Linked DNA regions of Homo sapiens. The protein of the gene in region 2 purifies or fractionates together with the protein of the main gene of each other region. This does not show direct contact. Each region holds a gene or a part of one and is shown on either strand. Other genes may lie near its edges. The genes, in order: LSM12, ATXN2L, DDX6 and G3BP2.

Evidence for each region.
Region 1: the proteins of ATXN2L (region 2) and LSM12 purify together in Homo sapiens (affinity purification with mass spectrometry; 4 studies listed by BioGRID and IntAct, with this or other methods). This does not show direct contact.
Region 3: the proteins of ATXN2L (region 2) and DDX6 purify together in Homo sapiens (affinity purification with mass spectrometry; 6 studies listed by BioGRID and IntAct, with this or other methods). This does not show direct contact.
Region 4: the proteins of ATXN2L (region 2) and G3BP2 purify together in Homo sapiens (affinity purification with mass spectrometry; 6 studies listed by BioGRID and IntAct, with this or other methods). This does not show direct contact.

What each region holds. Positions count from the first base shown.
Region 1 is NC_000017.11:44,063,647-44,070,572, forward strand, and holds the start of LSM12 (protein LSM12), read right to left. Parts: upstream 3,026-6,926; 5' UTR 2,942-3,025; coding exon 2,818-2,941; intron 289-2,817; coding exon 155-288; intron 1-154. UniProt on the Homo sapiens protein: Nicotinic acid adenine dinucleotide phosphate (NAADP) binding protein. Confers NAADP sensitivity to the two pore channel complex (TPCs) by acting as TPC accessory protein necessary for NAADP-evoked Ca(2+) release.
Region 2 is NC_000016.10:28,832,999-28,837,764, forward strand, and holds the end of ATXN2L (ataxin-2-like protein), read left to right. Parts: intron 1-60; coding exon 61-356; intron 357-440; coding exon 441-510; intron 511-1,066; coding exon 1,067-1,213; intron 1,214-1,344; coding exon 1,345-1,417; intron 1,418-1,507; coding exon 1,508-1,695; intron 1,696-2,059; coding exon 2,060-2,189; intron 2,190-2,279; coding exon 2,280-2,401; intron 2,402-2,547; coding exon of another isoform or gene 2,548-2,550; coding exon 2,551-2,760; intron 2,761-2,934; coding exon 2,935-3,267; 3' UTR 3,268-3,327; coding exon of another isoform or gene 3,328-3,482; 3' UTR 3,483-3,729; coding exon of another isoform or gene 3,730-3,802; 3' UTR 3,803-4,234; downstream 4,235-4,766. UniProt on the Homo sapiens protein: Involved in the regulation of stress granule and P-body formation.
Region 3 is NC_000011.10:118,760,142-118,767,173, forward strand, and holds part of DDX6 (probable ATP-dependent RNA helicase DDX6), read right to left. Parts: intron 5,215-7,032; coding exon 5,068-5,214; intron 3,166-5,067; coding exon 3,071-3,165; intron 1-3,070.
Region 4 is NC_000004.12:75,663,380-75,670,411, forward strand, and holds part of G3BP2 (ras GTPase-activating protein-binding protein 2), read right to left. Parts: intron 1-7,032.

The DNA.
Region 1 (6,926 bases), on a different chromosome or scaffold from region 2:
AAAACTAAACCTACATTTTTTAAAAAGATATCAGAACAAACAATTTTAAGTCAATTTTAAAAAATAAAAAATAGACAACAATGTATCACTAAGACTCAATGAGACTCATCTTTCCCACCATTTTAGAGAGCCAGATCTGCCCTTGAGTCCTTACCTTACTAACATTGAGTGAAGCTAGGGGAGGAGGGGTTTCTGTTCGGTCATTAATTATTTCCACTTCTGAAACATACTGTAAGTTTATGAGCAAGATGTCTGCATGGTTGGGCTTTCCACTGGAAGAGGGACATTCTGGTGAGAAAAAAAAAAGTTAAGGAAAAATAGGACAAGCAGAGGCACTGACACATCCCAAAAGGGGCATAGAAAACACGATTCACACAAGGCTTGTAAAAGGCAGGCCAGGAGCATGAGGGCCTTATAAGAATCACGGTTCTCCTCAGGAAATCTCTGCCTGTCACCTTCCTCCTGCCCAAATCCTTGGAAGCTTCCAAAGGAGTTCTGTCACTTTCTCTCTACTGGCTTTATGGAGAGGCATAATGCAGATTTAATGCGTTTGTCTTGAACCTATGAGCCAGACAAAAGAGCTAGACCTTTCTGTTCTTCGTATAATACTCTCTGTGTCTGCACAGTATTCTTTTTACTCTTTCAGATGTGAGCTTTCCCATTTTGCAGAGGAGAAAACTACACACTGGAAAGGAAATTCACCCAAGGTGACCCAGCCAGTTAATCCATTCATTCATTCACAAACTCATTCTCCAACCATTTAAGAGCCTACTGTATGTCAAGTAAAAGTTGAGTAATTCAGCCAGGCTCACGTGATGGCTCACGCCTGTAATCTCAACACTTTGGGAGGCTGAGGCGGGCAGATTACTTGAGGTCAGGAGTTCAAGACCAGCCTGGCCAAAGTGGCAAAACCCCGTCACTACCAAAAAAAAAAAAATTAGCCGGGTGTGGTGGCACATGCCTGTAATCCCAGCTACTCTGGAGCCTGAGGCAGGAGAATCACTTGAACACGGGAGGCGGAGGTTGCAGTGAGCCGAGATGGTGCCACTGCACTCCAGCCTAGGTGACAGAGCGAGACTCCGTCTCAAAAAAAAAAAAAAAAAAGTAATTCCTAGTTACAAGACCCTTCCAACTAAACCACTAATGTAAAAGGTCTTATTTCTTCCAGGTGTAACCTCTTATTTTTTTAAAAAAGCAACTATTCTTAGGCCGCGCGGTGGCTCACGCTGGTAATCCCAGCACTCTGGGAGGCCGAGGCGGGTGGATCACGAGGTCAGGAGATCGAGACCATCTTGGCTAACACGGTGAAACCCCGTCTCTACTAAAAATACAAAAAATTAGCCGGGCACGGTGGCGTATGCCTGCAATCCCAGCTACTCGGGAGGCTGAGGCAGAAGAATCGCTTGAATCCGGGAGACGGAAGTTGCAGTAAGCCGAAATCACGCCATTGCACTCCAGCCTGGGCAATAAGAGTGAAACTCCGTCTCAAAAAACACAACAAAAAAAAAAGCCGGGCGGTGGCTCAGGCCTGTAATCCCAGCACTTTGGGAGGCTGAAGCCAGCGGATCACGAGGTCAGAAGTTCGAGACCATCCTGGCCAACATGGTGATACCCCATCTCTGTTAAAAAAAAACATATACAAAAATTAGCTGGGCGTGGTGGCGCGTGCCCGTAATCCCAGCTACTCCGGAGGCTGAGGCAGGAGAATCGCTCGAACCAGGGAGTCGGAGGTTGCAGTGAGCCGAGATTGCGCCACCGCACTCCATCCTAGCGACAGAGCGAGACTCCATCTTAAAAAAAAAAAAAAAAAAAAGATGCCATAAAAAATTACTCCTCCAAAAAAAAATTCCAATAAACCCACCTGTGGCTCACATAAAAAGGGAAGCCGTGGCACATTTATCCCAACAAGGAAGTGTTTCATTTCCAAGACTGAGTTTCCTGGAGTAATTCAGAAGTCACTTCCACCCCAAAGAAGCAGGCCACCTTTTCCAATCAGTTTAACATTGCTACTTTCAAAAGGGAGGCTGCTACTACGTAAAAGGACTCCATGTGCTGGACTGATCAAGGCAGCATGAGAACTTCACTCTTTCACCTGTAACTCACACATCCCCAAACCACATAAGCCCCTGGCAAGCCCTCTCTGGAACAGGTTTCCAGTGCAAACATCCCCTAAACAGCAACTTCCAAATGACCGAGAAGCCTAAAAATCAGCACAGCCCCCCCACCACACATACACACGCATCAGCGAAACAAGCCACTATCCCTAGCTCAGATACAAACTCTGCCCTGAACTTACTCTCCCCCAAAACAGGCAAGGACCAATTTGGTCACCATCCCACCGCCCTTCCTTGGACGAAATCCCATCAGTGCACATGCCCTCCTAAATTCCATACCTTTGCCCTACCAGCAGTTCCTTACCCTAAACACCCCTCCCCATAATATTTCACCCGCCCCTCCTTTCCATCCGGGCTCCAATCCATCAGCCCCCTCCCACCACCACCCCCTCTCCTAATTACTGTGTCCCCTCTCATAACGTTCCCCCCAAAAAGCCATCCCCGTGTCAAGCCCTCCTCCACCCACTGATCCTCGGTAAAGCCCCAGCTCCCGCAAAGAGAGAGAGACAGGATCCCCAAAGCTGACCGAAGGGCCCGCGGGAGGGGGAGGGGAGCTCAGGGCCGTGCGCATGCGCCCCGGGCGCCGCGGTAGCCGGTCGCCCCTAGGCCCGGAGAGAGCCCCAGCCGCCGCCGTCGTCCCCCACCCCCCGACCACCGCACCTACACGCCGGCCCGGACTCGGGCTTCACGCAGGGAAGGATACTTAAAGCCAGCATTTTGGATTGGTAGTCAAAGGCTACCACCTCGCCCTGCAGCCGCTGCTCCTGGCACGTCCGGCACGACACCTGGCTCCCAACGCTGAAGTACTCGCCCGGAGGAGCCGCCATCTTGGGAGTGCAGCCGCGGCCGGCGGCGGCGGCGGCAGCAGCGGGCGAAAGCCGGGCCCCCAGTGAGCGCCGCGACGCGACGGCGCGCACGGAGCGTGCTTGCGTCACACGCCGGGGCGTGGCCTGGCGCTGGTTGGGGCGGGATCCTAGGTGGAGTGGGAAAGAAGAGGAAATAAAGGGGAATCTGAAAAGTATTTGTATAGCTGCGTCCGCTCGGTTAAGTGCTTGTAGAGTCCATTTTAGAAGTTAAGGATAAATGACCTACGTGGAATGAAAAGGGGAAAGAGGAGGGAGCTGCAGTCTCCATTATATGCACACCTTCCACACAAGAGTTTAATGAATGAATTTTATAAAATATGTTAACCCCATTTTGCATATGAGGAATCAGAGCCTCAGAGGACTTAACGATACTTGGACAAGATGATTATAAGGCTGGGAGCGGTGGCTCACGCCTGTAATCCCAGCACTTTGGGAGGCCGAGGCGGGTGGATCACCTGAGGTCAGGGGTTCGAGACCAGCCTGGCCAACATGGTGAAACCCCGTCTCTACTAAAAATACAAAAATTAGCCGGGTACGGTGGCGCGTGCCTGTAATCCCAGCTACTAGGGGGACTGAGGCTGGAGGATCTCTTGAACCTGGAAGGCGGAGGTTGCACTGAGCCAAGATTGTGCCACTGCACTCTAGCCTGGGCAACAGAGCGAGACTCTGTCTCAAAACAAACAAACAAACAAAAAAAGATGATTATAACTACTGAGTGATAGTGGAAAGAACATTGGCTGTGGAGTTAGATAAGCTGGAACCAGAATCCGAGGTCAGCCTCTTACTAAATCACCTGACCTTGAGCAAGCAAATTACCTGATCCTGTTTCTTCATAGGCATTTGTATTGTCACTTCTTGAGCATCTAACAGCCCTTTGAGGTAGGAATCAATGTCCTCCTTTTACATAAACTAAGTTTTAGACTAAACTTGTCCACGGTTCCACAACTAGCAAAAACAGTCTGCCTATTTCCAAGGACGGTGCTATTTACTGCTATACTCTGTTACATAATAATACCTACCTCATAGTTAGGAGGTTTAAATGCGGTAACGGGTATAAGTGCATGGCATGTACTAGGTCTTTAATAAATGGTAGTTCCCCCTTAGTCACCCATCACTCTTAGAAGTCAAGACACTTCCCCTTCTCCCTTTTTGCCCTCTCTCCCAGAAAGCCAGGCAAAAGGCAGGAATGAGGAGCAGCGGATAGTGACAAAAAGGGGCTTGGAGGAGGGGTTTTGCGCCCCTGCCCTTGAATGTCCGTCTGATGTACAAAACAGTCGTTTTCTTAATCTTATGCAAAGGACTATGAGCGTGCATTTTCAAGCCCTACTACCACCAATGGCTGTCGCTAACCCACCCACCGCTCACTATAGAAATTTTGGATCCTCGCTTCATGTATAAGAAACAGGTTGACCTTTCTCTAGTCCAGAGGGAAGCAAAGGGCCAGTCTTGGCGCGGCTTAACCTGAACAAAGTTCAAAAGTATTTCCTTGCCCTCCAAGAAACATAAACTTCCTGGTGTTGGAAGTATTGATACACTCATTATAATAGGAATAAAAATTCTGCTCCTTCATAGTGTGCTTTTTCAGAGAACTTTTTTTTTTTTTTTTTTGAGATAGAGCCTCGCTCTGTCACCCAGACTGGAGTGCAGTGGCGCCATCTTGGCTCACTGCAACCCGCACCTCCCAGGTTCAAGCGATTCTCCTGCCTCAGCTTCCGGAGTAGCTGGAATTACAGGCACGAGCCACCATGCCCGGCTAATTTTTGTACTTTTAGTACAGATGGGGTTTCACCATGTTGGCCAGGCTGGTCTCAAACTCCTGGGCTCAAGCAATCTTCCCGCCTCGGCTGGCCTCTCAAAGTGCTGGGATTACGGGCGTGAGCCATGTGGCCGGCCTCAGAGAACTTTCATGCCTCTCATCCTTGTTCTGGCCCCCATAATAAATCATACATAATTGCCATTCCAGTTTTCCACTTTTTATATGGAATCGTGATTATAGGTTTTCATATAAGACTTCTAGGAGCCATTAGGAAAGGCCTTCTTGGAGGAAGTGAAAAATCTCTACTGAGACCTGAAGGATTGGCAAGGAAAAAGAGTGGCCATGTTCCAGGCAGAGGGAACTGCACGGGCCAGGACCCCTAAGAGGAGAGAACTTGGTGATTTCAAGGAATGTATAGGTCAGAAATATTACAAAGCGGAGTGTGGGAGTAGGCTGCTTAAGGTTGAGGGCAAACCTCAAAGACTCGGTAAACAATGTAGGCTTTCTCTTCGGCAATTAAAAACTTCCTGGTATTGTCCGGGCACAGTGGCTCACGCCTGTAATCCCAGCACTTTGGGAGACCGAGGCGGGCGGATCACGAGGTCATGAGATCAAGACCATCCTGGCTAACATGGTGAAACCCCGTCTCTACTAAAAATACTAAAAATTAGCCAGGTGTGGTGGTGGGTGCCTGTAGTGCCAGCTACTTGGGAGGCTGAGGCAGGAGAATGGCGTGAACCCAGGAGGCAGAGGTTGCAGTGAGCTGAGATCGCGCCACTGCACTCCATCCTGGGGGACAGAGCGAGACTCCGTCTCAAAAAAAAAAAAACTTCCTGGTGTTGGAGGTATTGGTATAATCATTGTAATAGGAATAAAAATTCTGTTCACTACAAAGGCAATAAACGAAGATTTATATCCAGCTTCCCTCCTTTACACCTTTTTTTTTTTTTGGAGACGGAATTTCTGTCTTGTTGCCCAAGCTGGAATGCAATGGCACAATCTTGGCTCACCACAGCCTCCACGTCCTGGGCTCAAGCGATTCACCTCTCTCAGCCTCCTGAGTAGCTGGGATTACAGGCATGTGCCACCACACCCAGCTAATTTTGTGTTTTTAGTAGAGACACGGTTTGGTTTCTCCACGTTGGTCAGACTAGTCTCCAACTCCTGACCTCAGGTGATCCACCCACCCTGGCCTTCCAAAGTGCTGGGATTACAGGGGTGAGCCACTGTGCCCAGCACCTTTTTTATTTTTTATTTTTTTTTATTTTTTGAGATAGAGTCTCGCCCTGTCGCCCAGGCTGGAGTGCAGTGGTCCCATCTCGGCTCACCGCAACCTCCGCCTCCCGGGTTCAAGCGATTCTCCTGCTTCAGCCTCCCTAGTAGCTGAGACTACAGGCGCGTGCCCCCACGCCCAGCTAATTTTTGTATTTTTAGTAGAGATGGGGTTTAACTATGTTGGCCAGGCTGGTCTGGAACTCCTGACCTTGTGATCCGACCGCCTCGGCCTCCCAAAGTGCTGGGATTACAGGTGTGAGTCGCCGCGCCCGGCAAAAAAAAAAAAAAAAAAAAAACTTTTCAAGAACAAAGTTGATTGAGGTAGGAAGAAACTAAGGAGACACTGTTCAACAGTATTCTAGGCAGGACCTCGCCTAGAATAGCTGAGATTTCTATTTTCTATGTGAGTTCCCCCAGATGACTGTTTCAAACTCTGTCGCGGGTGTGTGCCAATCCTCTTCCCATACCAACACTGTTACTATCTCTTGGTTTCATCTGCCTAAGCAGGGTTTTGGATGGCAGGAGGATGGGGGTGGGGGAAGCAAGGGAAGAACTGGAAGGAAGTGTGACTTTGCGCTATATGTGAGAATTCGCCTTTTTAGGGAAGACCCCTCAAAATCAAGAGACTTATCTGTCAGCCTCCAGATTAATAGCAGGCGAATTAGAAAGGGGGAGTCTTGAGGCTGGGGAGGAAGGAGTGAACTGATTAGGGGTGTATGCAAATTTAGGATCCCGCTTCAGCTCCCAGGAGGAGGGGCTGTCTGCAGCCTTTTCTCCAAAGGATCTCAGATTTATTTATTTTTTTGCTGTTTGTTTTTTTTTTTTTTTTTTTGGTGGGTATTGGTGCTGGAGAAGAGAGGTCCGGTGGGGAAAGAATCCCGGCCCTGGAGATTATATATCCGCCTTCGCATCAGC
Region 2 (4,766 bases):
AGAAGAAAGCCAGGACTAGGGTCTGGGTCAGACTGGACTGTGTGTGTTTCTCTCTTCCAGCTTCAGCCCAGTAGCTCCCCTGAGAACAGCCTGGATCCTTTTCCTCCCCGGATCTTAAAGGAGGAGCCCAAAGGAAAGGAGAAAGAGGTTGATGGTCTGTTGACTTCAGAGCCCATGGGGTCTCCCGTCTCCTCCAAGACAGAGTCCGTATCGGATAAGGAGGACAAACCACCCCTGGCACCATCAGGAGGCACTGAGGGGCCAGAGCAGCCCCCACCACCTTGTCCAAGCCAAACTGGCAGCCCCCCGGTGGGCCTCATCAAGGGAGAAGACAAAGATGAGGGCCCTGTTGCTGAGTGAGTGGAGCGGGGTGGGGCTCTGGGAGGATGGCAGGAGGGATGAGAGCAAGCCGTGAAGATTTACTGTACTTTCTCTCACAGACAAGTAAAGAAATCAACGTTGAACCCTAATGCTAAGGAGTTCAATCCTACAAAGCCTCTGCTGTCTGTGGTGAGCTGGGACAGGAGAATGTGGACTTTGGTTTCTGTGGGGAGACTTGGGCAGTGCTTATAGATGAATAGGGGGAGGAACACTTCACTTCCAGGACCACTTGCCTGGCAGGCAGTGTGAGGAGATGTCATAAAAATGTAAGGATGGCACCTTTGGGGCTGGCTTGGGGAAAATGGACTCAGGTCTCTAGGTTTGGGTGATCAGGGGATCAGGGATCCCAGTGAGTCTGATGAGGGGTTAACAGGCTTTTCTTTGGTTCTTGGCATTTGGCTGAGGGAGTATTGGAGTGGGGTAGTCATGAACAGAGGCCAGCTGACTTGGCTTGAGCCCCTGTATTTGGAAGGTTTGTGATCTTGGACGTCACTTACATTCTCTGCCTCACCTGTAACTTTAGAATACTCATCTCCTCATAGGGTTTAATGTGAGGCTTTATCAAGATAAGTGCAGAATATGTTTGGTATGCAGCATTTCACGAATGTTAATTATTACCACTCTAGGCATGGCCAGGAGTAGAGGGGAAAATACAAAATAAAATTGTCCTCCCTTGTTTTTGCAGAATAAATCCACCAGTACCCCAACTTCTCCGGGGCCCCGGACTCATTCAACTCCCTCCATCCCGGTGCTGACAGCAGGCCAGAGTGGGCTATACAGCCCCCAGTACATCTCCTACATACCTCAGATCCACATGGGACCAGCTGTGCAGGTATGCAGAGAGACTGGCCGGGCCCAGGGTTAGCGGGGTGGGATTTGGTTGCGCTGGTTGAGGGACCAGGTCAGGCCTGTCTGGGCATTCGTGAGCGAGTCATTCAGCCTCATCTGTGTCCTCATCCCCAGGCACCTCAGATGTATCCATATCCTGTATCCAATTCAGTGCCTGGGCAGCAGGGCAAGTACCGGGGAGCAAAAGGTGAGCAGGGCTGGGAGGGGCAGGCGGCGAGGCTGCCAAGGGCCTACTGGCAGGTGGAGCTTGAGCTCTCCTCTCCTCCTCCTCTTCCAGGCTCCCTTCCTCCGCAGCGCTCGGACCAACACCAGCCAGCCTCAGCCCCGCCGATGATGCAGGCCGCCGCGGCTGCTGGCCCGCCTCTGGTGGCTGCCACGCCCTATTCTTCCTACATCCCCTACAACCCTCAGCAGTTCCCAGGCCAGCCAGCCATGATGCAGCCCATGGCCCACTACCCCTCACAGGTGACTGCGGCCCAGGAGGGCAGTGAGGATCCAGGGCCCCTGCTAGGGATCCCATCTTCTCCAGAGACTTGGGAGCTGGCTAGGGGTGGCAGGCAGTGTTGTAGGTGGGATCGGCCCTCTGTGGTATTGGCGGTGTCAGACTTGGGCTTGAGCCCTGGCTCTGGTGGTACCTGTAACAAGGCATTGGACATCTGTATCTCTGAAGTGTAGAGAAAATAGTGTCTGCTGGGTGGGATCGTTATGAATGTTGAATCAATAGGGTGATTGTGAGGAGGCCCAAGCGGTGCTGTGCACGCAGTGACTGGCAGGAGGACACCTTCCCAGCTGGCGGCTGTGCCAACCACTCCTCTCTCTGTCCCGCCAGCCGGTGTTTGCCCCCATGCTTCAGAGCAACCCACGCATGCTGACGTCGGGCAGCCATCCCCAGGCCATCGTGTCATCCTCTACCCCTCAGTACCCTTCTGCAGAGCAGCCTACCCCCCAAGCCCTTTATGGTGAGTCCTGCGCCTGGTCCCTCTGCTCTGGGCTGTGTGCCAGCCCCCTCTGGTGTGCTCAGCACTGGTTCTCCCTCTTTCCTGCTGCAGCCACTGTTCACCAGTCCTACCCACACCATGCCACACAGCTCCATGCCCACCAGCCGCAGCCGGCTACCACGCCTACTGGAAGCCAGCCGCAGTCCCAGCATGCGGCCCCCAGTCCTGTCCAGGTGCCTGCCATGGGGGGTGCTGAGTGGTCCTGGTGCAGGAATGGGTGGCCAGAAGAAGGGATAGAGCTAGGGGTCATTTCTGAGTGGCGAGGACTGGGGGCCAGCGAGTTGCTGGCCTGTGTGGCACTCAACCTTCCCCTCCCCAGCAGCATCAGGCGGGGCAGGCCCCACACTTGGGCAGTGGACAGCCACAGCAGAATCTGTACCACCCAGGGGCCCTGACAGGCACGCCGCCCTCTCTGCCACCGGGACCTTCTGCCCAGTCCCCTCAGAGCAGCTTCCCCCAGCCAGCCGCTGTGTATGCCATCCACCACCAGCAGCTGCCCCACGGCTTCACCAACATGGCCCATGTTACCCAGGTAAGAGCCCAGCTGTCCCACTTCTGGGTCTGTTTGCCAGGGCCCGTCTGCCATGGGGACCATCCCATTGCCAAGTCCCTGGTGCCACCCTTGCCATAGTGCTCCCTAACTCTGGCTCTCAGAGTCTGTTTCAGGATTCTGTGGTCTTCCCGGCTACTTTTTTGTTTTCCACAGGCCCATGTCCAAACTGGAATCACAGCAGCCCCGCCCCCTCACCCTGGGGCTCCCCACCCGCCCCAGGTGATGCTGCTGCACCCACCCCAGAGTCATGGGGGGCCCCCCCAAGGCGCGGTGCCCCAGAGTGGGGTGCCTGCACTCTCAGCTTCCACACCCTCACCCTACCCCTACATCGGACACCCCCAAGGTGAGCAGCCTGGCCAGGCGCCTGGATTTCCAGGAGGAGCCGATGACAGGATTCGTGAGTTCTCATTAGCTGGGGGAATTTGGCATGGAAGAGCTGAGGGGCTGCAGGTGGGGCAGGATGCACGGGTTCTGGGTGGGGAGTGAGGGGTCTTGGAGGCAGGGCTGTCCCACAGGGCGCCCGCCGACCTGCACCTGTCTGTGAAGTATGTAGGGTGGGCAGAAGCCACAGTCGCCGCCGCCAGGGGCTTGCTCCTGGCTCTGTCCTTTGCTTCCCTCCGTCCTCGCTCAGTTGTGATCCAGCAGCCCCCCTCCCCACTGCCTCCCCAGCTCTCAGTGACCCCGACTGTCTCCTGACTTAGCCGAGGTAAGGTCAGTGCAGCAGACAGGGCCAGACTGGGGTGTGGGGGGCTGAGCTGGGCACATGAGTGAGGGCTCTGGCTTACTGGGAAACAGCGATTGACCTGTGCTTCTGACAGCCCCCGAGACACCTTGAGGAGGCCGCTCCTTCCCAGACACACCCCCACGCCCCCACTGGACGGCATTGGAGGAAGGGACAGCTGCTTGGGTTCTAATGCTCCTGCTCTCTTCTCTTTCCCCTCCAACCAGTTCAATCTCATCCCTCCCAGCAGCTCCCCTTCCACCCCCCGGGGAACTGAAGATTGTCCTGGCCGCGACCTGAGACCTCCATGAGTGGAGGGAAGAGTGATCTATGTCTCTTCCCCCAGCAGCTCGGACCACTCCCAGCCCCCCATCCCCCCGTTCCCCAGGGGAGCTGGGGAATTCCTGCCAAGCACCTTGAATGGGAGGGGCCTCACAGAGGGCAGGGCCAGGGTCCAGCAGGGGTGGGGGGTTCCTGCTCTGCCCCTGCCCGTCCCCACCCAGTCTTGCCCTCCCATCCTCTCATCTATTCCCCCGCTGGAGACGGAAGATCTTTTATTTTCTATTATTTATAACTTCAGACTTGGGCCCCCTGTTCTTTCTTTCCCATTAACTTGAGTGACCTGTGTGAGAGACAGACAGATGCCCCACGAGGATGGCTGGACAAGGACTTTTACTTTTTATTACATAAAAATATTAAAAAATAAATAAAAAAAATAAAATTTTAAACTAACTTAACCTGCCTGGAGTTTCCTCCTTGGAGACTAGAGTGGGGTGACAGCTGTCAGTCTTTTGTGGCATTGATAGGTGCTGCATTGTGACCTGTTCCTTCACCTCCATGTAAAAATCGTGTCCAGTGGCCAGCCATGGTGGCTCACGCCTGTAATCCCAGCACTTTGGGAGGCTGAGGTGGGCAGATCACCAGGTCAAGAGATGGAGACCATCCTGGCCAACTTGGTGAAACCCCATCTGTACTAAAAATACAAAAATTAGCCAGATGTGGTGGGACATGCCTGTAATTCCAGCTACTTGGGAGGCTGAGGCAGGAGAATCACTTGAACTCGGGTGAAACCCTGTCTCTACTAAAAATACAAAAATTAGCCTGGCGTGGTGGGACATGCCTGTAATCCCAGCTACCTGGGAGGCTGAGGCAGGAGAATCACTTAAACCCAGGAAGCGGAGGTTGCAGTGAGCTGAGATCACTCCATTGCACACCAATGGTGGCCAGTTTTTGAAATCTAGGATGATGGGGAGCCAGATCGGGA
Region 3 (7,032 bases), on a different chromosome or scaffold from region 2:
CATCCATGAAATGTTCCTGGTGGAAAACAATAAATTCTCTCCAACACTGCAGAGAGTCAAATATGCAGAAGGGGGCAAAATCTATAATCCCCATCTTCTAGGGGAAAAAAAAAATTCTACACTACACAGACAACCTCCCCCGCTTTCTGTAACAGAATTTAATTAATTTATTTATTTTTAGAGACAGCATTTCACTCTGTCACCCAGCTGGAGTGCAGTGGCATAATCGTATCTCACTGCAGCCTGAACTTCCTGGGCTCAAGTGATCCTCTTGCCTGAGCCTACTGAGTAGCTAGGACTACAGGCACATACCTCCATGCCCAGCTCCACAACAGAATTTTAATGTGATGATTCTCATTAAAGAGGTAGTATGGTGTAGTGTTTAAAAGTACGGGTTCTGGCCGGGCGCGGTGGCTCACGCCTGTAATCCCAGCACTTTGGGAGGCCGAGGCGGGAGAATCACGAGGTCAAGAGTTTGAGACCAGCCTGACCAACATGGTGAAACCCCATCTCTACTAAAAATACAAAAATTAGCTGGACGTGGTGGTACGCACCTATAATCCCAGGTACTCGGGAGGCTGGGGCAGGAGAATCGCTTGAACTTGGGAGGCGGACGCTGCAGTGAGCCAAGATCACACCACTGCACTCCAGCCTAGGCGACAGGGCGAGACTACTCCGTCTCAAAAAAAAAAAAAAAAAAAAAGTAAGGGTTCTGAGGCCGGGTGCAGTGGCTCACGCCTGTAATCCCAGCACTTTGGGAGGACCAGGCGGGCGGATCACCTGAGGTCAGGAGTTCAAGACAAGACTGGTTGATATGGTGAAACCCTGTCTCTACTAAAAATACAAAAATTAGCTGTGCACAGTGGCAAGCGCCTGTAATTCCAACTACTCAGGAGGCTGAGGCAGAAGAACTGCTTGAACCTGGGAGATGGAGGTTGCAGTTGAGCTGAGATCGCACCACTGCACTCCAGCCTGGGCAACAGAGCAAGACTCTGTCTCAAAAAAAAGTACAGGTTCTGGAGCTAAACTGCCAGGTTGAAATCTTGCCTCCTTCATTTCTCAGCTGTGTGGGAATGTTACAGAACTACTCTGTACTTCAGTTTCCACAACTCTAAAATTGTAAAACTATTAAAATTTGGATGTTTACATAATGTAGTAACTACTTTACCGGGATTTAGAAAAAACTTGGCTAAGGCCAGGTGTGGTGGCTCACGCCTGTAATCCCAGCACTCTGGGAGGCTTAGGTGGGCAGATCACTTGAGGTCGGGAGTTTGAGACCAGCCTGACCAACATGGAGAAACCCTGTCTCTGCTAAAAGTACAAAATTAGCCCGGCATGGTGGCACATGCCTGTAATCCCAGCTACTCGGGAGGGCTGAGGCAGGAGAATCGCTTGAACTTGGGAGGTGGAGGTTGCGGTGAGCTGAGATCGCACCACTGCACTCCAAGCGGGGCAACGAGACTCTGTCTCAAAAACAAAACAAAACAAAACAAAAAAGAAAAAACTTGACTTTCAAGTTATCCAGCCACTCCTCTTCTTAAAAATTAAACCTAAACTCTGGCATCTATAAGACAAAAAGCTGAATTCCTATGAATGCCTATCTATTGCATCTGAAGTATAAAACGTATTTTATAAGCAAATTAGAAGTTGGATGTCTACATACTATAGTAACTACTTGACAGGATACCTACCTTATAGGTTTCTTGTAAAAATTAAATGGAAAAAAAAAAAAAAAAACAAACCATGTAAAGCACTTAGTGCTGGTACCCAGTGATTAATAAATGTTCTCTCTCATTACTTAAAGATAAAAGTCTGATTTGAATTAAATCATGTTACCTAAAACACAAACCAGGCCGGGCGTGGTGGCTCATGCCTGTAATCCCAGCAATTTGGGAGGCTGAGGCAGTAGGATCACCTGAGGTCAGGAGTTCGAGACTAGCCTGGCCAACATTGCAAAACCGCGCCTCTACTAAAAATACAAGAATTAGCTGAGCGTGGGTGGTACATAATTGTAATCTCAGCTACTCAGAAGGCTGAGGCATAAGAATCACTTGAAGCGGGGAGGCAGAGGTTGTAGTGAGCCGAGATCACGCCACTGCACTCCAGTCTGGGTGACAGAGTGAGTCTGTCTCAAAAAAAAAAAAATAATAATAATAATAATAAACCTCAACCCAAATGTGAAAATAACCTCATGTCAAAACATTAACAACGCTGATCACTATAGATCCTCCTTGACTTACAATGGGATTATGTTCTGATAAATTCATCCTAAGTTGAAAATATTACCCAAACCTACTGAACATCATCGCTCAGCCTAGCCTCCTTTAAACATGCTCCACTTACCTTAGCTTACAGTTGGGCAAAATCACCTGCAACGCCGTATACTGTAGAGTATCGGCTGTCTGCCCTCAATCATCATGTGGCTGACTGGGAGCTGCAGTTTGCTGCTGATGCCCAGCATCATGGGAGTATCATATAGCATATTACTAACCAGGAAAAATATCAATCTTAAAAATTCAAAGTACAGTTTCTAATGAAAGCTTATCACTTCCACTGAAAAACTGTAAAGTGAACCATCTTAAGTCAGGGACCATCTGTACATGTACAAAACATGGCTAGATCCCAGGACTACAGATTTTAATAAGTTTTTAAAAGGCATTTATAACATGGTGAGATAATACATGTAACAGAGATTAAAAACCAAACAGTACAAAGTAGTATGCACAAAATGAGAAGAGACAATATATATTATATGCTTTTAAAAATTAATCACAGAGCAGAAAGAGACTTAGAATAAATTTGGCATTGAGGTTATTCACTCCTCTACTAAAAAATTAAAACCTAATGTCTGCTATCTCTAAGAAAAAGACAAAATGCTGAATTCCAATGAATGCCTATAATCTACTCCCTCTGACGGGTAAAACACATTTTATAAGCAAATTAATTTAAACTGATTGTTTATGTGTTTATTAGATCATAAACACAAGCAGCTTTTGCTTCATTCACTGGCAGTTATAAGCAAAGCACAGAAAAGTACAGAACAGTATAATGCCAAATGAAGAGACATTACCTCATCCAATACTATCATCTGGACATGATCAACCTTTGCTACTCCTTTCTTAATAAGATCCAGGATTCTCCCAGGGGTAGCAATCACCACGTGCACTATGCAAGATTTAGAAAACATACATTCTCATTAATTTTAATTTGAGCAAAGAGGATAAAGGTTTATAATATTACAGTCCTGAGCTGCTTAATGATAATTCTGAGAAATGCATTGCTATGTGATGGTATAGCCTACTCCATTGTATAGCTCCATTATAATCTTATGGGAACACCGACATACGTGCAGCCGTCACTGACCACAACATTGTATGCAGCACATGACTATCTTTTATTAGAAACAACTAGGCCGGGTGCAGTAGCTCATCCCTGTAATCCCAGTACTTTGGGAGGCCGAGGTGGGTGGATCACATGAGGTCAGGAGTTCGAGACCAGCCTGGCCAACACGGTGAAACCCTGTCTCTACTAAAAATACAAAAATTAGCTGGGTGTGGTGGTGGGAGCCTGTAATCCCAGCTACTCAGGAGGCTGAGGTAGGAGAATCGCTTGAACCCAGGAGGCAGACGTTGCAGTGAGCCGAGATCACACCACTGCACTCTAGCCAGAGCAACAGAGTAAGACTGTGTCTCAAATTAAAAAAAAAAAAAAAAAGAAAGAAAGAGAAGAAACACATTGTGTTATAGAGGTGGAAATAACACAAAAAGGCACAAAGATGTGTTTTAGGATAAAGACTTCCATTTCACCACAGGATGCTTAAAAAATATTTGTTTCACCTCTACATTGGGTGGGGTACAGCTTCCTAAATCACCTGCTGCTTTCAACAGTAGGCATACTTTCTTGTCTTAGGATAATTCTCAATTAATAGCAGAAGGCACACCAGACTTCTGACATAAGAGCAATGCCTCTAATCTAGAGCAGTGAGCCGAGTATTGTTAAAAGGATCAAACAAGATAATTTTTTAAAAACCTATGCAATACAAAGAATGTATCACATAATTATCATATATAATATTCTAACTAAAATCAAGATATAATTTTATATGAGTGATCTCATTCTTGCTGTTTTGTTACCTTTTTCCACTCGGCAATGTATCATGAAACCTCTTCATGAAAATGAATACAGGTCAACTTTACTCTTTAATGACTATGTAGAATCCTATTCAGATTATACCTTAACGTATTTAGTTAGCCAATCTCCTTCTAAGTTGGCCAATTTTTCGGCACGACAATACCACCCCATAGCAAACAACTTTGTACCTACAGCCCTGCATTTACCCAACTTTTTTCTTCAGGAAAGATTCTTAAAAATATACATTTATGGCCGGGCACGGTGGCTCACGCCTGTAATCCCAGCACTTTGGGAGGCTGAGGCAGGTGGATCACGAGGTCAGGAGATCGAGACCATCCTGGCTAATACGGTGAAACCCCGTCTCTACTAAAAACACAAAAATTTAGCCTGGCGTGGTAGCGGGAGCCTGTAATCCCAGCTATTCAGGAGACTGAGACAGGAGAATGGCCTGAACCTGGGAGGCGGAGATTGCAGTGAGTCAAGATTGCGCCTCTGCACTCCAGCCTGGGCAACAGAGCAAGACTCCATCTCCAAAAAAAAAAAAAATATACACACACACACACACATTATATATACATTTATAATTTTAAAATATACTCCCAAATTGCCCATGATAGAGATGTAAGTTTACACCCCCACATTTACAATGTAGCCTATTTGTCCACAAACTCACATTATCGTCTACTAATACTTTTAGCTTTACCAATTAAACAGGTAAAATTATTATAAACTTGCTGTTTTACAATTACTAATAAAGTCAAATATCGTTTTCAATTATGGTAATTTGTCTTTTTCGCTTGAATGCAGTGGTCATTTCCTTTTCTTACTGCAGTATTTCTGTTCCTTAATTCTTAAAAACAATTTTTAATAATTTACTGAAATACTTGTGACTAAAATAACAGAGAGCTACACTACCTTTTAGTAATCATTTCTTACCTGTATCATCAAGCCTCATTATGTCATCTCGTAAATTGGTTCCTCCTGTGGTTGCCATCACTTTGGCCCCTCCCATGTGTTTGCTGACCTGGATGCAAATTTGACTGACCTGTAGAGCAAGTTCTCTAGTGGGAACAATCACCATTGCTGAAACAGTATCAAGGAATATATAAGAAAATATGGGGTGAGGTGGGAGAACATGCTATACATCATTATTTACAAAATTTAAGAAGCTATAGAAATACTGCGCCTTATGATGCAGTGGCTCACACCTGTAACTGCACCTTATGATGCAGTGGCTCACGCCTGTAATCCCAGCACTCTGGGAGGCCAAGGTGGGCAGATCACCTGAGGTCAGGAGTTCGAGAGCAGCCTGACCAACATGGTGAAACCCCATCTGTACTAAAAATACAAAAATTATCCAGGCGTGGTGGCACGCACCTGTAGTCCCACCTACTCAGGAGGCTGAGGCAGGAGAATCACTTGAACCCGGAGGCAGAGGCTGCAGTGAGGCAAGATCGCGCCACTGCACTCCAGCCTGGGCGACAGAGTGAGACTCAGTCTCAAAAGAAAGAAAGAAAAAAAAAATAGCCTAGGCACGGTGGCTCACACCTACCTATAAGCCCAGCACTTTGGGAGGCCAAGGTGGGTGGATCACCTGAGGCCGGGAGTTTGAGACCAGCCTGACCCTATCTCTACTAAAAATACAAAATTAGCTGGGCGTGGGTGGCACATGCCTGTAATCCCAGCTACTTGGGAGGCTGAGGCAGAAGAATCGCTTGAACCCGAGAGGCAGAGATTGTGGTGAGCCGAGATTGTGCCACTGCACTCCAGTCCAGGCAACAAGAGCGAAACTCCGTCTCAAATAAAAAAAAAGAAAAGAAACACTGCCCCTTATAATCTAGATACCGAGATGTATTAAAAAATTGGGCTGGGCAGCACAGTGAGTAACTCATGCCTAGAATCCCAGCACTTTTGGAGGCTGAGGCAGGAGGATCGTTTGAGCTCAGGAGTTTAAGACCAGCCTGGGCAACATAGCAAGACCCCATCTCTACTAAAAAAAAAAATGAAAAAAATTAGCTGGGAATGGTGGCATGTGCCTATAGTCTCAGCTTCTGGGGAGGCTGAGGCAGGAGGATCACATCAGCCTGGGAGATTAAGACTGCATTAAGCTATGATCATGACACCACACTCCAGAATGGGTGACACAGCAAGACTCTGTCTCCCCCGCCAAAAAAATTAAGAAATAAAAATAAAAAGTTGAATCATTACACAGGACATTATGAAAACTCAAATGTACAAATCTCTTTATGAAAAGAGAACCTATTATAGTGTCCCAGATTTAGACTCTCCCTCAGCAATACTATTATATAAATATTAAACTCTTCCTCTTCTTTTTTTTGAGATGGAGTCTTGCTCTGTTGTCCAGGCTGAAGTGCAGTGGCTGCCATCTCGGCCCACTGCAACCTCTGCCTCCCAGGTTCAAGCAATTCTCCTGCCTCAGCCTACTGAGTAACCGCCACCACACCCAGCTAATTTTTTGTATTTTTAGTAGAGACGGGGATTCATCATGTTGGCCCAGCTGGTCTCAAACCCCTGACCTCAAGCAATCCTCCTGCCTTGGCCTCCCAAAGTGCTGGGATTACAGGTGTGAGTCACTGCACCTGGCCTTCTGCTGCTGCTGCTTCTTCGTTTTGAGACAGATCTCGCTCTGTTACCCAGGCTGGAGTGCAGTGACATGATCTTGGCTGACTGCAACCTCCACCTCCCAGGTTCAAGCAATTCTCCTGCCTCAGCCTCCTTGAGTAGCTGGGACTACAGGCACATGTCACCACACCCAGCTAATTTTTGTATTTTTAGTAGAGACAGGGTTTTACCATGTTAGCGAGGCTGGTCTTGAACTCCTGACCTCAGGTGATCTGCCTTGCCTCGGCCTCCCGAAGTGCTGGGATTACAGGCGTGAGC
Region 4 (7,032 bases), on a different chromosome or scaffold from region 2:
CGCTAAATCTCCTGAGTGGCTGGGACTATAAGCATGCACCTGGCTAATTTTTTTAAATTTTTTAATTTTTATTTTTAGCAGAGACGAGGTCTGGCTACAATGCCCTGACTGGTCTCGAACTCCTGGCCTCAAGTGATCCTCTCACTTCAGGTGTGAGCCACAAACAAAACTTATCATTTACTGTAGGAATATAATCCCCAGGGCCAGGTACGGTGGCTCACACCTGTAATCCCAGCACTTTGGGAGGCAAGGCGGGTGGATCACAAGGGCAGGAGTTCAAGACCAGCCTGGCCAAGATGGTGAAACCCCATCTCTACTAAAAATAAAAAAATTAGCCAGGTGTGGTGGTGGGTGCCTGTAATCCCAGCCACTCCGGAGGCTGAGGCAGAGAATTGCTTGAACCCGGGAGGCGGAGGTTGCAGTGAACCAAGATCGCGCCAGTGCACTCCAGCCTGGGCGACAGAGCGAGACTCGTCTCAAAAAAATAAAAAATAAAAATATGAAATATAACCTATTTTATTTTTGAGATGGAGTCTTGCTCTGTTGCCCAGGCTGGAGTCCAGTGGTACGATCTTGGCTCACTGCAACCTCTGCCTCCCGGCAGAGCAATTCTCTTGCCTCAGCCTCCCGAGTAGCTGGGACTACAGGCACGTGTCACCACACCTGGCTAATTTTTGTATTATTAGTAGAGACGGGGTTTCACCATGTTAGCCAGACTGGTCTTGAACTCCTGACCTCGTGATCCACCTGCCTCAGCCTCCCAAAGTGCTGGGATTACAGGCGTGAGCCACCGTGCCCAGCCACCTGTTTTATTTTAAAAAGACCTATTAAACTTAAAAGTACTAAAAAAAAAAAATCATAATTCCTAAGCATGTATCTACTGGGTAAATCAGGATGCAGTTGAAATTCCTGCTTAGCCAGGTGCGGTGGCTGACGCCTGTAATCCCAGCACTTCAGGAGGCCAAGGTGGGCAGATCGCCTGAGGTCAGGAGTTCGAGACCAGCCTGGCCAAAATGGTAAAACCCCTTCTCTAGTAAAATACAAAAATTTGCCAGGCGTGGTGGCTGGCGCCTGTAGTCCCAGCTACTTGGGAAGCTGAGGCAGGAGAATCGCTTGATCCCAGGAGGCAGAGTTTGTAGTGGGCCAAGATCATGCCTCTGCACTGCAGCCTGGGCAACAACAGAGTGAGGCTCCATCTCAATAAATAAATAAAGTCCTGCTTAAACTTCAGGTTGAGCTGGGAGGATCATTTGAGATCAGGAGTTCGAGACCAGCCTGACCAAGATGGTGAAACCCCATCTCTACTAAAAATACAAATAATTAGCAGAGCTGATGGCACACACCTGTAATCTCAGCTACTCAGGAGACTGAGGCACAAAAAATCACTTTAACCTGGGGGACAAAGGTTGCAGTGAGCCGCGATCACACCACTGCACTCCAGCCTGGGCAACTGAGTAAGACTCTGTCTCAAAACAAACAGACAAAAAAACACTGCAGGCTGGCACAGTGGATCATGCCTGTAATCCCAGCACTTTGGGAGGTGGAGGTGGCAGGAAAGCTTGAGGCCAGGAGTTCAAGACCAGCCTGGCCAACAGAGAGACCCCATCTCTATACAAAAAATTAAAAATAAAAAGTCAATTTCCATGTGTGTTTACTTTAAATAACTAAAACAATTTCAGAGACAGCCCTGCATAGGTCATTAAAATTGTGATGCTGTTTTTAATAAAAATCAAATACCAACTATAGTAGAGCTTACAGATAGAGTGTAGCTTTACATAATTCTAGTGACTCACAATTCAACTTCTACATTATGTTTTTAGGTTCCTTGTTTCTTCCTTTCCAACAAACTATCCCTCCTCTAACTGTCCTTCTTAAACTCTCAAACTTGATTTACAAAAATCCCCAAATCTGTTTAAAATTTTTTATAATGCCTCACTTGCTTTCAAAAATAGTTAATTCACAAAGAGCAGATCCAAATACTGCCATTTCAGGTGTCATTGATTTTCCAGAAAACTTAAAACTCCCAATAAGGGTAACAACCCTAGTGCAAAAAGGACTCACATATGCTACATTTAAAGTAACAAAGCACTGGGCTGTGGCTCACGCCTGTAATCCCAGCACTTTGGGACGTCGAAGTGGGCAGACTGCTTGAGCTTAGGAGCTGAAGACCAGCCTGGGCAACAAGGCAAAACCCCATCTAAAATTAGCCAGACATGGTGGTGCACACCTGTAGTCACAAACACACAAACACACACACACACACAAACACACAAACAAACACACACACACACACACACACACACACAGCTAAGCAACTAACATTTTTATTTTGAATAATGAGGGTGGGTAAAGAACAGTAGACTTACCTGGTAAAATTTAACAAGATAACTAAAACATGGAAATTATATGTATTTTAACACCATAAAAACTGATGGTAAAATAATACTAACACATGGGAAAATACTACATTACTCTCTGAACAAAATAACTATACACAAAATAGTTTTCTTTAAATTGATAGTGACAGAAATACTATTAGGAATTTCCGGGTTTGGGAATTGTTTTCTTCTCTCTGGATTTCCAGATTTTCTACAGGAACACTGTTGTCATTTATCCCAAATTTCCCATCATATTCATAGAGTACATACTGATCTATCATTTTTGTCACTTACATATTTGTTTCTCAAACCAAAATAAAATGGTACATAATACATATATAATATCACAGGTCAAAATGCTCTAAAGATTTGTTGTAACAAGGTTCAAAAAAAGCTTCAAATTGCCCACTATCTACATGGTCACTGAAGTATAATGGCCAACATACCATCAATTTAGAACAGAGAGACAGGGAAGGGCAGTAGAAGTAATATTTGATTAATCAATACTCAATAAATTAATACTTAGAACTATTGGAAGGCAGTAACTTGAAAAGTTAACTTCAAATGGTAAATAAGTAAGGCAATGCTAATCTGGTAAAATCTAAACAGGCATATAACAGGTTATATAGAAAGCTGAGCTTTTAAGGTGCAGAGGAGGCTCCCAAAGGAATGGTAAAACAAAATCAAGATTTACTGAGAGAACAGTGTTTCAACTAATTACATCAGTTACTTCTTTAACCATAACTCCGATTTGAAGTGACTCAGAATTTAGAGAGCCAAAATATAATTGATAGAAATCAACCAGAAAATGACTACTAGAGATCAACCATCAAACAACGTGGTTTGGGTATTGCAGGAAATAAGACTATGAAAATTGAGTAAGTAATATAAAGTTCGTATTTATAATTCATGCAGTGTACGTAAGAAGGTTGAGAAAAAGGAAAAAAGCCAAATTACACTTTCAGAATAAAAGTGATTACAAGAAGAAAGAATTGTGCCATTTTTATTATTCATAGCAAATCATCTTACAGGTAATCCATTTCTAGATCTGGGACCTTCCATTTCTTAAAAAAAGTTAACAAAACGAAACAAAATTCTGAATATGGGAGTAAAAGGTTTCAACTATCTTATCCATGGCCATGAAAAACTCATGACCTTACTGGATCTCGATTTCCTAGTTTACAAATTGAGAAGAAATCCCCGGTCAAGCCTACAAGACTATACAGTTCTACAAAGATAGCCAAGAAGGCCTGGTGCAGTGGCTCACACCTGTAATCCCAATATTTTGGGAGGCCAAAGTGGGTGAATCGCTTGAGCTCAGGTGTTTGAGACCAGCCCAGGCAACATGGCAAAACCCCGTCTCTACTAAAAAATACAAAAAATTAGCGGGGCGTGGTAGTGTGCAAGCGTAGCTCCAGCTACTCGGGAAGCTGAGGTGGGAGGAATGCCTGAGCCCGGGAAGTCAAGGCTGCAGCGAGCCAAGATGGCACCACCGCACTCAAACCTGGGTAACAGGAGTGAGACACTGTTTAAAAAAAAAAAAAAAAAGATAGCCAAGATTAAAGGATACTTATACACAAAAAGAAATCTTTAGAAAGTTCTTAGATTAGCACCTTCAAAGATAACTACCATCTTCAATAAGGTGGTTGTTAGCCTCACCTAACAACCTTTTTAGAAAAAGTTAAATACAATATATCACACTCCACTTCTTCCAATGACACCTGAAAATGTGAAGAATCTCACACAGGAATGCACAGTGTAAAATTTTATCTGATACATTAGCTCTATACACAGTCAAAGCTCTCTCATGAACAAATCCGTCTTTTACTTGTCAAATGAAAACATTATCCAAGGCCAGGCGCAGTGGCTCATGCCTACTTCCCAGCACTTTGGGAGGCAATGGCAGGAGGATCACAAGGTCAGGAGATCGAGACCATCCTGGCTAACACAGTGAAAGCCCGTCTCTACTAAAAATACAAAAAATTAGCCAGGCCTGGTGGTACGCGCCTATAGTCCCAGCTACTCAGGAGGCTAAGGCAGCAGAATTGCTTGAACTCAGAGGCAAAGGTTGCAGTAAGCTGAGATCACACCCTTGCACTTCAGCCTGGGCAACAAGAGCGAAACTCTGTCTCAAAAAACAAAAAACCGAAAACATTATCCAGTATAGTTTAGAGGCTTTTTACTCTCCAACTCTGCCTATCGCACCTAAAATCCCAGTGAATCTTCATCAGAATATTTTATTCATTCCTGTTTCTTAAAATGTTTCCTCTGCATTTGCCTAATTCCTGAAGCACATGCACTTCAGCTCTCACGGAAAATTGCTCTATATTTGTCACCATATTTTCTGAATCTATTAATTATACACATTGAGAGAGAGTGGAGTATTGGTAGATAATACACACTGAGAGGGAGTGGAGCATTGGTAGACATACATGCAGATTAGAAAAGAAAGTCACATTGAGCTTCATTATCCTACAATGAACTTATATTTCCTCAGTTTCAAAATAACGTAAAAACCAAAGTTATCACTCTCCTTTCCTCAAACTTTGACTAAAACGTCACCTTTTAGGTAAGAAACATTTAGGTTTTTTGTTTACCATTTAAAGTTCAGTGAATCACTACTATAATGGGGCTGCCTCCAAAACAATCAATCTTAGGCTACATTAATTTAGATGTAATATCTAAAATGAGTTGATTGCTAATTGAATATAGTGAATGGAAATTATAAGAAGGTAGATTTGGGTGAAACATAACACAAGAATAACGCGAGTTGTCCAAATATCAAATAGAGCTACTTAACAAGTAGCCAGTCACTACAGGTATTCCAGAGACTAACTGAATGGTTTGGCACAAACATAGTAGAGTCCATACATCCAAAAAAGTAAGATTAGGCCATTCCAACACTAAGATCCTAAAAGTCTGTTAACAAGAAGCAGGACTTTTGACTTCTCCTCCAATACTCATCTCACACCTTCCTATCTGCAATGATTGAAACCCTATGCATTTATCTGGGCCCAGCAGAAATCCTGTCCCCTTGAAAATCTTTCTACTCCTACTGAATTCCTCAACAGAATATAACTCTTCTCTATTAACTCTTAAAGCACTTTTGGCCTTTATCATAGCAGTTTATTGATCATGCTCTGCCCTAAATTACTAACTGTACACCTGTCTTCATCTTCTATTCCCCTCTCAAATATTATAACTCAGCTCTCCTTTGAATGCAATTCTCTGGAAACATCACAATTCTTCTCAATAATCGAATGACTTCTCAATCCTCCACCCATCTGCATTATCAATGTTGACTACCTCCTCCTAACTCTTCTAGAGTTCTATAAGGCAAATTTTCCTTCTCATCCAAACGCAGAATTTCTCAAGGTTCTGTCTTCTAACCTGGCAATTTCAGCTTCTGGTCTCATGTCTACCTAAACGTGTATCTAGTCTATACCATAAGTTCAAATTTTACATTTGTCACCACATACTGAACACCTAGACATGACCCACATATGTCCCAATACACGCATGCACCAAAGAAAGCTATTTCCTTATTTCTGTTAAAAGTGTCATAATCTTCTCAACTTGAAAGCTCAGTCGTGACTTTCTCCCCTTTAGCTTTGCCACTTAAACTGTGAAATCCTTACAATTCAGAAGGTGGAATTTGTGCCCTCCTTTTCACTCCCACTGTTCAGACCTTTTATTCTTCAAAAGTCTTTCAAGCCCCTGTATCACGTGTAGTATATACTGTACTGAGTAAAATCCAAACACCTGCATTCAGTTTGGCATCTAAGGCCCTACACAGAAATCCAGTCTGACATTCAATGTCATAACCAACCTTTCAAATTTATCTCCTACTATACTTTCTCATCCCTGTATCAAATTCTATACAAATATTTTAATCACCTAATATTATTCTCTGCAATTTCACTCTCTGCGCCTTTGTCTTACTTCATTCATTCCCATCCACAAGCTGAGTCAATGGGTTATACAAAATAAATTCATTTCAACATTTATTTTATGGCTACTATGTATGTACCAGAAACTACAAAAGGAAAAAGAGGCCGGGTGCAGTGGCTCACGCCTGTAATTCTAGCACTTCGGGAGGCCGAGATGGGTGGATCACCTGAGGTCAGGAGTTCGAGACCAGCCTGACCAACATGGCAAAACCCATCTCTACTAAAAACACAAAAAAGTTAGCCGTGTGCAGTGGCGGGCGCCTGTAATCCCAGCTACTCAGGAGGCTGAAGCAGGAGAATCGCTTGAACCCGGGGGCGGAGGTTGCAGTGAGCTGAGTTGTAAGTACTTGGTATTAGTTATTATAAAAAGAATAAGACCTCTAGTAATAGGAGGCAGTTCTCTTTACCAGATACTGTTACCAAAGGTTATGTGGGTGCTAAGACACAGCTTATCTCCACTATAGGATACTTACCCCTTTCCCCTCTGGAGTCCCTCACTCATAGCTGGGCTCAAACTAGTCAGGTTTATTTATTTTAATTGAACCATGGACTATATCCATTTCCAACAGCTAAATGCATATTAATACTGGAACTTTCTGAAATTCCAGATGGTTTTTGTTTGAAGTAACTTAAACAATCTAAGGAACACTATACCTTTTTAAAGAAATGACCTTCAATCTTTTGTGGTACACCATTGAATGAAA